Regions from separate parts of the Homo sapiens genome. Here region 2 is linked to region 1. Evidence: fine-mapped expression QTL. A gene starts in region 1. The other region holds a variant in brackets. All regions are shown on one strand. Distances are from middle to middle.

What was found. PIP is the estimated chance that this variant, and not a neighbour inherited with it, causes the effect.
Region 2: its variant is the best candidate, but not a certain one, in a credible set for the expression of CRTAP in skeletal muscle (GTEx, PIP 0.58).

What each region holds. Positions count from the first base shown.
Region 1 is chr3:33,111,711-33,116,104 of GRCh38, forward strand. CRTAP (cartilage associated protein) reads left to right here and starts at 2,304. Exons shown (of 7, transcript NM_006371.5): 1 at 2,304-2,838. The coding sequence starts at 2,368. RefSeq lists enhancers at 1-134, 3,015-4,006 and silencers at 2,134-2,433, 2,874-3,063.
Region 2 is chr3:32,378,171-32,382,564 of GRCh38, forward strand. It overlaps LOC124909361 (a long non-coding RNA gene), which reads left to right. Exons shown (of 2, transcript XR_007095859.1): 2 at 5-333. Among named protein-coding and RNA genes, the nearest start is that of CMTM7, 11 kb to the right of the region's middle. The variant TAGAC/T (reference allele first, on the strand shown) is at 2,299.

The sequences.
Region 1 (4,394 bases):
TCAAAACAAAACAAAAAACAAAAAAAAGACTTTATTTTTTAGAGTGGTTTTAGATTCATAGCGAAACTGAGCGGAAACTACAGAGTTCAAATATACTCCATGACCCTACAACATGCGCAAGCTCCCCCACTGTCAATGTCTTGCACTAGAATGGTACATTTGTTACAATCAATGAACCTACATCAACACATCGTTATCACCCAAAGTCCGGTTTACATTAGGGCTCACTCTTAGTGTTGTACATATTATGGATTTTAACAAATGTATAGCATATATCCACCATTATACTATCATATAGAATAGTTTCACTGCTCCAATAATCCTGTCCTCTACCCATTCATTCCTCCCTTTCCATAATTCTCAGCAACCACTGATCCTTTTACTGTCTCCATAGTTTTGCCTTTTCCAGAATGTCATTTGGCTGGAATCACACAGTATGTAGCCTTTTCAGTTTGGCTTCTTTCAACCAGTAATATGCATTTAAGACTTCTCCATGTCTTTTCATGGCTTGATAGCTCATTTCTTTTTGGCTTGGAATAAAATTCCATTGTGTGTATATACCACAGTTTATGTATCCACTTACCCACTGAAGGACATCTTGGTTGATTCCAAGTTATGGTAATTGTGAATAAAGTTGCTACAAACATCCATTCGCAGGTGTGTGCATAAGTTTTAACCCATTTGGGTAAATACCAAGAAGTGCAATTTCTGGATTGTATGAGTAGAGTATGCCTAGTTTTGTAAGAAACGGCCCAACTGTCTTCTAAACTGTATGTACCATTTTGCATTGCCACTATCAATGAATGAGAGTTCCTGTTGCTCCACATCCTTGTCAGCATGTGACGTTGTCAGTGTTTTGGATTTTGTAGTGGTATCTCATTGCTGTTTTGGCCTATATTTTTCAAAAATGACAACGGCATGACAAGAAAAGCCGAGGAACCAGTTTAAAGGATATGAAATAGACTAGATGTAACAGTGATCACGGATGGACTGCATCCTAAGAGAAAAAAGTGCCATGAAAGACATAATTGGAACAGCTGACATAACCGGAAATGGAACATGATTAAAGTCTTCTATCAGTATTAAATTTCCTAAATTTGATTGTCTGGTAGTTTCATTCTTAGGACATACATACTGAAAGACTAAGGGGTTGGGCACGGTGGCTCACGCCTGTAATCCCAGCACTTTGGGAGGCAGAGGCAGGTAGATCACCTAAGGTCAGGAGTTCAAGAACAGCCTGGCCAACATGGCAAAACCTCATCTCTAGTAAAAAATAGAAAAATTAGCCAGGTATGGTGGTGTGTGCCTATGATCCCAGCTACTCGGGAGGCTAAGGCAGGGAGAATTGCTTGAACCCGGGAGGCGGAGGTTGCAGTGAGCCGAGATCGCGCCACTGCACTCCAGCCTGGGTGACAGGGCGAGACTCCGTCTCAAAAAAAAAAAAAGGAAAAAAAAAAAGAAAAAAAAAAGACTAACGGACAGTGGGCCTGATACATGCAACCTATCTCAAATGAGTCAGAAAAAAATGTAAAGATAGAAATGTGGTATAACGTTAGCAACTTGTGAATCTTGATGAAGGGTATATAGGAACTTTTTGTACTGTTTTTGCAGCTTTCTTGTAAATTATTTCAAGATTTAAAAGTTTAAAGATTTTTTAAAAGTGCTGCCATTAACATTCCATCCATATTTTTTGATGCACACGCGCAAGCTTCTCCAGCATATTCCACCGAATGGTGTTGCAGATTCATAAGGTGTGCACATCTTCAACCTGACTAGCTATACAGTTTACAAAGTGCTGACATCCTTATTAATTTTATTTTTGCACTGTCTTTTTCTCTCACTAAAATTTAAGGTTGGGCAGTGCTATTAAAAGTGCGGCCCTTGGGCCCGCAGCATTAGCCTCATCAGGGTGCTGGTTAAACACACAAATCGTCAGACCTCCACCCCAGACTTTCTGAATCAGAAACTCTGGGGGCACAGCCCAGGAATCTTCGTTTTCACAAACCTCCAAACGAATATAAAGATCGTAGATTATATAGACCGTAGGGCCGATGTATATAATCTATTAGGGCCGCGTCGGCCTTGCAGGCGGGTCTCCAAGTGAATGAGCGGCAGAGTCCCATCATGCGCATCAGCCTGCGTGAACCAGTGCGCAGCGCGCCTTTCCCGGGCACCCTCTAGGTGCTGGCAGCTGGCGCCCAGATCCCCCGGCTGGGTGGGGAGGGGCGGCCGGACGGGGCGGGCCGGAGGCTGGCGTCCCCGCCCCGAAAGCACTGGGCCCGCCGCGTCGCACCGTCCTCTTTCCTTTCCTTCTCCCTCCCCTTTTCCCTTCCTTCGTCCCTTCCTTCCTTCCTTTCGCCGGGCGCGATGGAGCCGGGGCGCCGGGGGGCCGCGGCGCTGCTAGCGCTGCTGTGCGTGGCCTGCGCGCTGCGCGCCGGGCGCGCCCAATACGAACGCTACAGCTTCCGCAGCTTCCCACGGGACGAGCTGATGCCGCTCGAGTCGGCCTACCGGCACGCGCTGGACAAGTACAGCGGCGAGCACTGGGCCGAGAGCGTGGGCTACCTGGAGATCAGCCTGCGGCTGCACCGCTTGCTGCGCGACAGCGAGGCCTTCTGCCACCGCAACTGCAGCGCCGCGCCGCAGCCCGAGCCCGCCGCCGGCCTCGCCAGCTATCCCGAGCTGCGCCTCTTCGGGGGCCTGCTGCGCCGCGCGCACTGCCTCAAGCGCTGCAAGCAGGGCCTGCCAGCCTTCCGCCAGTCCCAGCCCAGCCGCGAGGTGCTGGCGGACTTCCAGCGCCGCGAGCCCTACAAGTTCCTGCAGTTCGCTTACTTCAAGGCAAGTCCGCCTCGCCCCGTCCCAGGCCCCGGCCCCGCCCCTGACCCAGCCTCCAGGCCCTAGCCCCGCCCCTGCGCCCGGGGCCGCGTTGCCCCTCCAGTTCTAGACCTGGCTCCCTCCCATCCAGCCCTGCCAAAGGTCTCCTCCAAGTCCTGTCTCCTTCTTCATCTCAACTAGAGATGAAAATGCCTTTCTTGAAGGGTAACTCTAAGGTAGAGAATACGTACACAGAACGCAGTACAGCGCCAGGCACCCAACAAAGTGCCTGATAAATGTTCTCTGTTATTTGAGGGCAGACGCCTCTTTTCTGTATATACCATTAAAGTCGCCTTTTTTCTCAAGTGAGCGGTGACTTGCGATAATAAAGCAGAAGACCTGAGGAGCCGACAAGTACCTTTTATTTTTATTTTTTGTTGAGACAGGGTCTCACAGTCGCCCAGGCTGGAGTGCAGAGGCGCTATCATGGCTCACTGCAGCCTTGACCTCCTCAGGCTCAGGTGATCCTCCACCTCAGCCTCCTGAGTAGCTGGGATTATAGGCGCGCGCCACCACACCTAGCTAATTTTTTGGTATTTTCTGTAGAGACAGAGTTTCGCCACGTTGCCCAGGCTGATCTCGAACTCCCGGACTCAAGTGATCCTCCCACCTCGCCTCCCAGAGTTCTGGGATTACAGTCGTGAGCCATTGCACCCAGCTGACTAGTTCCTTTTAAAGAGGATGAAATTGAGGCCAGGGAAGGGCAGGGACTCCTTGCAAGGACACATCCCTGCTTAAAGGGGAACTCGTGCACCGTGAGTCATCAGGATTGGCCCTCTCCGCTGTTTCTCTCTTTCATCTAGAATTTAACACAGTTCACTGCCTCCTTTTAATGGCTGCTTAAGTTCTCTCTGTGATTGCTGGCTAAAAATAGCCACAAATTGCAGTTCTCTATCCTATGGGTTCTCACTCCGAGGACCCACAAGTTTTAAGAATGGTTAGATTCCCTGTCACTAGATAAAGAGGCTCTAGCTTGGTGGGTCCTCACAGGGTTTGGCTAAAAGAGCCCTCTCAAAGCCCAGTTTCTACTTTCTCTGAGAAAGATTTTAAAAGGAATATATTGTGTTTTTTAAAATTACTACAAAAATAGATTCATGGCATATCCTAGACTCTTGAGGTAGAAGGTTTTTGTTTTTAAACTTTGTTTTCAGTTTCTGGACTGCAAGATCTGTTTTTTCAGATTTCCACCGAGACAGAGCCACGTGTATATTGTATTTATATGAGCAATAAAATAACACAAAACCCCAAAGAGGGGAAAAGCTGGGTTACTTCTATACTTCTATGCTTAGTTACAGTTTTATTTAAAGTATCAGTTTTGTGAATGTTTGTTCTGGCAATTAAAAAAAAACAGTTTTAAAACAGAAGCAGGGAATGAGATTAATAAAATTCCAGAATGTTGAAAATGAGGGCTGGTTCATACAAAGCATCATTTTTTAAGCTAAAAATGACTTATCTAATTCTTTTTTTGTATAGCTTTTGGCAAATATGTTCTGAACCAAATTTAGGTCACATAATCAAGA
Region 2 (4,394 bases), 730 kb before region 1:
ACAGATACACTTCTCAAGCTGTGCTGAACCGTGGTTGCTAGATTGGTCATTAAATCGAAGATCAGTTAACATGTTGTCTTTCTAAAAATACGTGATGGAGAAAAGTTGTGCACACAAAAATATCAGTGGCACTGAAAACTGTTTACAAGGAGTTTTTAGTAGAAAATGTTTATGGTGTAACTTTGAATTTACAAAAGGCAGAGCAAACTTGAGTAGTAAAGAGTGGCAGGATCGCAAGGTGATTTTTTATTTTGTTTTTCTGTATTTCTCCCAATTTTCTCCAGTAAGCATAAAATACATTCATAATCTGGAAATAAATATTTTTAACTAAAAGACAAGATAAAGCAGTAGTCTTAGTAGGTTGAAACAATCAGTATCCTATTTGTGGAAAAATTAAAATCTTCCAGCCTCTTTGCAAAGACAAACAAGCAGCCTGGGCAATTGCATGAGGACCACTGAGGGGACTGCACCTGTTGCCTTTGCCTTTTTTTCGGCAGGAAGTATAGTCAGCTTTGGTCATCATTTATCTCATTTATGAAAGATTTCATGGATAAAGTAAGAAAGAGAGTCTGCCTGCCTGCAAATCACTCATTTACAAATTTTGAATAACAAGATTATTGTGAAAATTTACATCTGTATACTTACTTATAGTAGGAAAAAAAAAAAACTATGAGAATTTACATTTGTATTTCTAGCCTACATGGAGAGAAGTTCTTGCATTCACACTATTCTGCTGTCTTACACAATTCCAGAACATTCGTTCACCATACTTAGAGAAGGTATAACATGTAATAGTCTTCTGTGATTTCTTAAATAGCACTGGACTTTAACTTTTTAAAAATAAGGGGTAGCTGAGCATGATGGCATGTGCCTGTAGTCCCAGCAATTTGGGAGGCTGAGGTGAGAGGATTGCTTGAGTCCAGGAATTCGAGACCAGCCTGGGCAGCATAGCAAGACCCTGTCTCTATAAAAAAAAAAATAATTACAACAGAAAAATTAGCCTAGTGCGGTAGCACACGCCTATAGTCTCAACTACTTGAGAGGCTGAGATGGGAGGATTGCTTGAGCCCAGGAGTTCGAGGCTGCAGTGAGCTCTGACCATGCCACTGCACTCCGGCCTGGGCGGCAGAGCAAGACCTTGTCTCTAAAAAATAAATAAAATTTAAAAAATAAAATAAGGGATGATGGTCATTAAGAATAGTGCTGTAATCCAGCAAAGTCCCACCCCAAATGGCCTCATTCTTAATTCCTGTGTCTACTTTTCATAGATTTATAGGCTCTTTCCTCACTGTCCAGACTGACAGTACAGTCTGTCTTTTATGATCGTACATCTCCCCTCTGCAGCAGCCTAACCCCTTCTAATGAAGTGTTCTTAATTTTCACTAGACTCGTTGGAATGGTATATAAAATGAGAGCTGGCACAGGCTGAAGGGCAGCCTCTCCTACAAGTTAAGGGCATGATCCTTAATGCTTGAGCACTTAAACTTGGTCTTAACTAAACGTTTAAGTTTAGAGAGAAAATATTAGCAAAGTGCAAATCTAATAAGGGGGTAAATATAATAAAATATATAAGGAACTCAAGAAAAAAACAACACAGTTTTAAAACGGGCAAAGCACCCGAACAGACATTTCTCAAAAGAAGATATACAAATGGCCAACAGGTATATGAAAAAATGCTCAACATCACTAATCATCAAGGAAATGCAAATCAAAACCACAATTGGGTATCGCCTCTCACTTACTAGAACAGCCATTCTCAAAAAAGATAAGCATTGGGAAGGATAAGGAGAAAAGGGAACCTTGCACGCTTGGTGGAAATGTAAATTAGTCCAGCCATTACGGAGAACAGTACGGAAGTTCCTCAAAAAGTTAAAAATAGAACAACCCTATGATCCAACAATCCCACTTCTAGGTATATACCCAAAGGAAAATAACTCAGCATGTCAAAGAGGTATCTGCAGTTTCGTGTTCATTGCAGCATTATTCACAATAACCGAGAAGTGGAAGCAACCTAAATGTCCATCAACAGACAAAGGGATAAAGAAAATGTGGGCATACAATGGAATGCTGTTCGGCTTAAAAAAAAGAAGGAAATCCTGTCATTTGCAACAACAAGGATGAACCTGGATGACATTATGCTAAGTGAAATGTCAGGCACCAGAAAGACAAATACCGCAGGATCTCACTTATATGCGGAATCTAAAGAAGTCACACTCCATAGAAGCAGAATAGAACGGTGGTTGCCAGAGCCTGATGGGAGGAGAGAGGAATGTTGGTCAAAGGGCACAAAGCTTCAGA[TAGAC/T]AGGGGGAAAAAAGTTGAAGCCTTGGTTAAAAGGCTTTTATTTTTCGTGCTTGTTTCCTTTTTATTGTTACTATAACGTTTACAGTTTTTAAATATATTTACATTCAGAAATAAGGCAAAGAGGTATCCCCAAGTTTTAAGGATAAAAACAGTTTTTAATTTTTGAAGAAATGCTTTTGATATTTTGAGAATGGTCAAGAGATTTGTCTTCTGAAAGAATTATTTATTGGTTCTGAATGCAAAACATAAATGGTGTATTCGTTTGCTGGGGCTGCCATAACACAATACCACAGACTGGGTGGCTTAATCAACAGAAATCTATTTTCTCACACTTCTGACTAGAAGCCCAAGATCAAGGTGTCGGCGGATTGAGTTTCTTCTGAGGCCTCGCTCTTTGGCTTGTAGATGGCCACCGTCTCACTGTGTCCTCACTTAGTCACCTTCTCACTGTGTCGCCTGTTCCTAATCTCCTCTTCTTACAAAGACACCAGTCATATTGAATTAGGGCACACCTTACCAACCTCATTCTAACTTAATTACCTATTTAAAGGCCCTGTCCCCAAATACAGTCATATTCCGAGGTACTGAAGGTTTGGACTTCAGCATATGAATTTGGTGGGGGGCCAGGGGAGGCATAATACAGCCCATAACAAATGGCAATGCTTTTTTCTCCCCAGATAAATGTATTTTCCCTCTGTCTCTGTCTGTCTCCCTGTCTCTCTGTCTCCACTTTTTTCTCTCCTTTCTCTGCTGGTAGCTTCATAAAGAAGTACCAGTTCTGGCAGAAAGCATTAGCACAAAGACTAATGATGCCCCACACTTGTGTGGTGTTCGATGGCCTTTCTCAACATTTCAAACCCATTTCTGGGTGAACATTTCACAAATGCAATCACTGAGGTCCGGACAATGTCACTTGCAGGCAGACCAGCAACTGGAGTCCCATTTGCTTATTCCAGAGGTCGAGAAAAGCCAAACTGGCCTTAACGCAGACCTTCTCACTGCTTAAGGAATTAGGGGCTCCTCCCCTTGTCCCATCCTTTCTACGGGTACAGCCAAAAGCATGAGGAAGCAACCCACCTGCAAGTTATAACCAATAGAGAGCACTCACAAAGCGGAATGTCCACAGGGAGGCCACAGTCTGTCTACCTGGGGAGATATGGCAAATAATCACACAGGAAGTTATCAGAAAATGAGAGTCGACTGTCTAAAGCTTCACTGCCTGATCCATCAAATGTCACCATTCCCTCACTGGCCAATGTCAAACCTTCTCTTTTTGTCAATCATGTTGAAGCACACAAACATCAGTGCTGGTTGACAGTCAACTTTATGGTGGTTTTTCTAGAGATACATTGTGGGGAGATGGGGTAATGCAGGGACCACCTGTGCAATTCAGCACCAAATTATCTCTTGCCGGCTGGAACTAAGTACAAGTGGCCACAGCCAGGAAATAATTGTTAGCAAATTTTATTGTCCACCCGCAACTGTGCACAGAGCTCTGTTTTGGGAACCTGACGGGATATCGGACAATGCACGTAAGCTGGGCGAGGGCGACGCAAAAGAGGGTGGGACTAAGCCAAGGGCAACCCAGAGGGGTGTTTTGTTTTGGTTTGTTTTGTTTTGCTAGATTCTTGCTCAAAGTGCTGTTTGCACTTGTCTGCCAATGCTCCCAACATGCCAAGCCCAACCACTTTCATCCCAGCCTATTTCAGAGGCCACTAACAGGAACCAAATACCTGAATAAGTATAATTTCATTTAGTCCTTAGCCCAATGAGGTAAGCTATGTGAACCCCATTTTGCAGATGTGGAGACTGATGTGCAGAATGGCTCTGAGGCCCCTAAATTCCAATCCAGGTCTTCTAAATCTGAATCCAGTGCTCTTTCCACTTTTTTTCTTGAATTCCCAGATGTTTCCTCTAATGTATTCCCCCCCTCTTTTTTTTTTTTTTTTTTTTTTTTTTTTTGAGGTAGAGTCTTGCTCTGTCACCTAAGCTGGAGTGCAGTGGCGCGATCTCGGCTCACTGCAACCTCCGCCTCCCGGGTTCAAGCAATTCTCCTGTCTCAGCCTCCCGAGTACCTGAGATTACAGGTGCA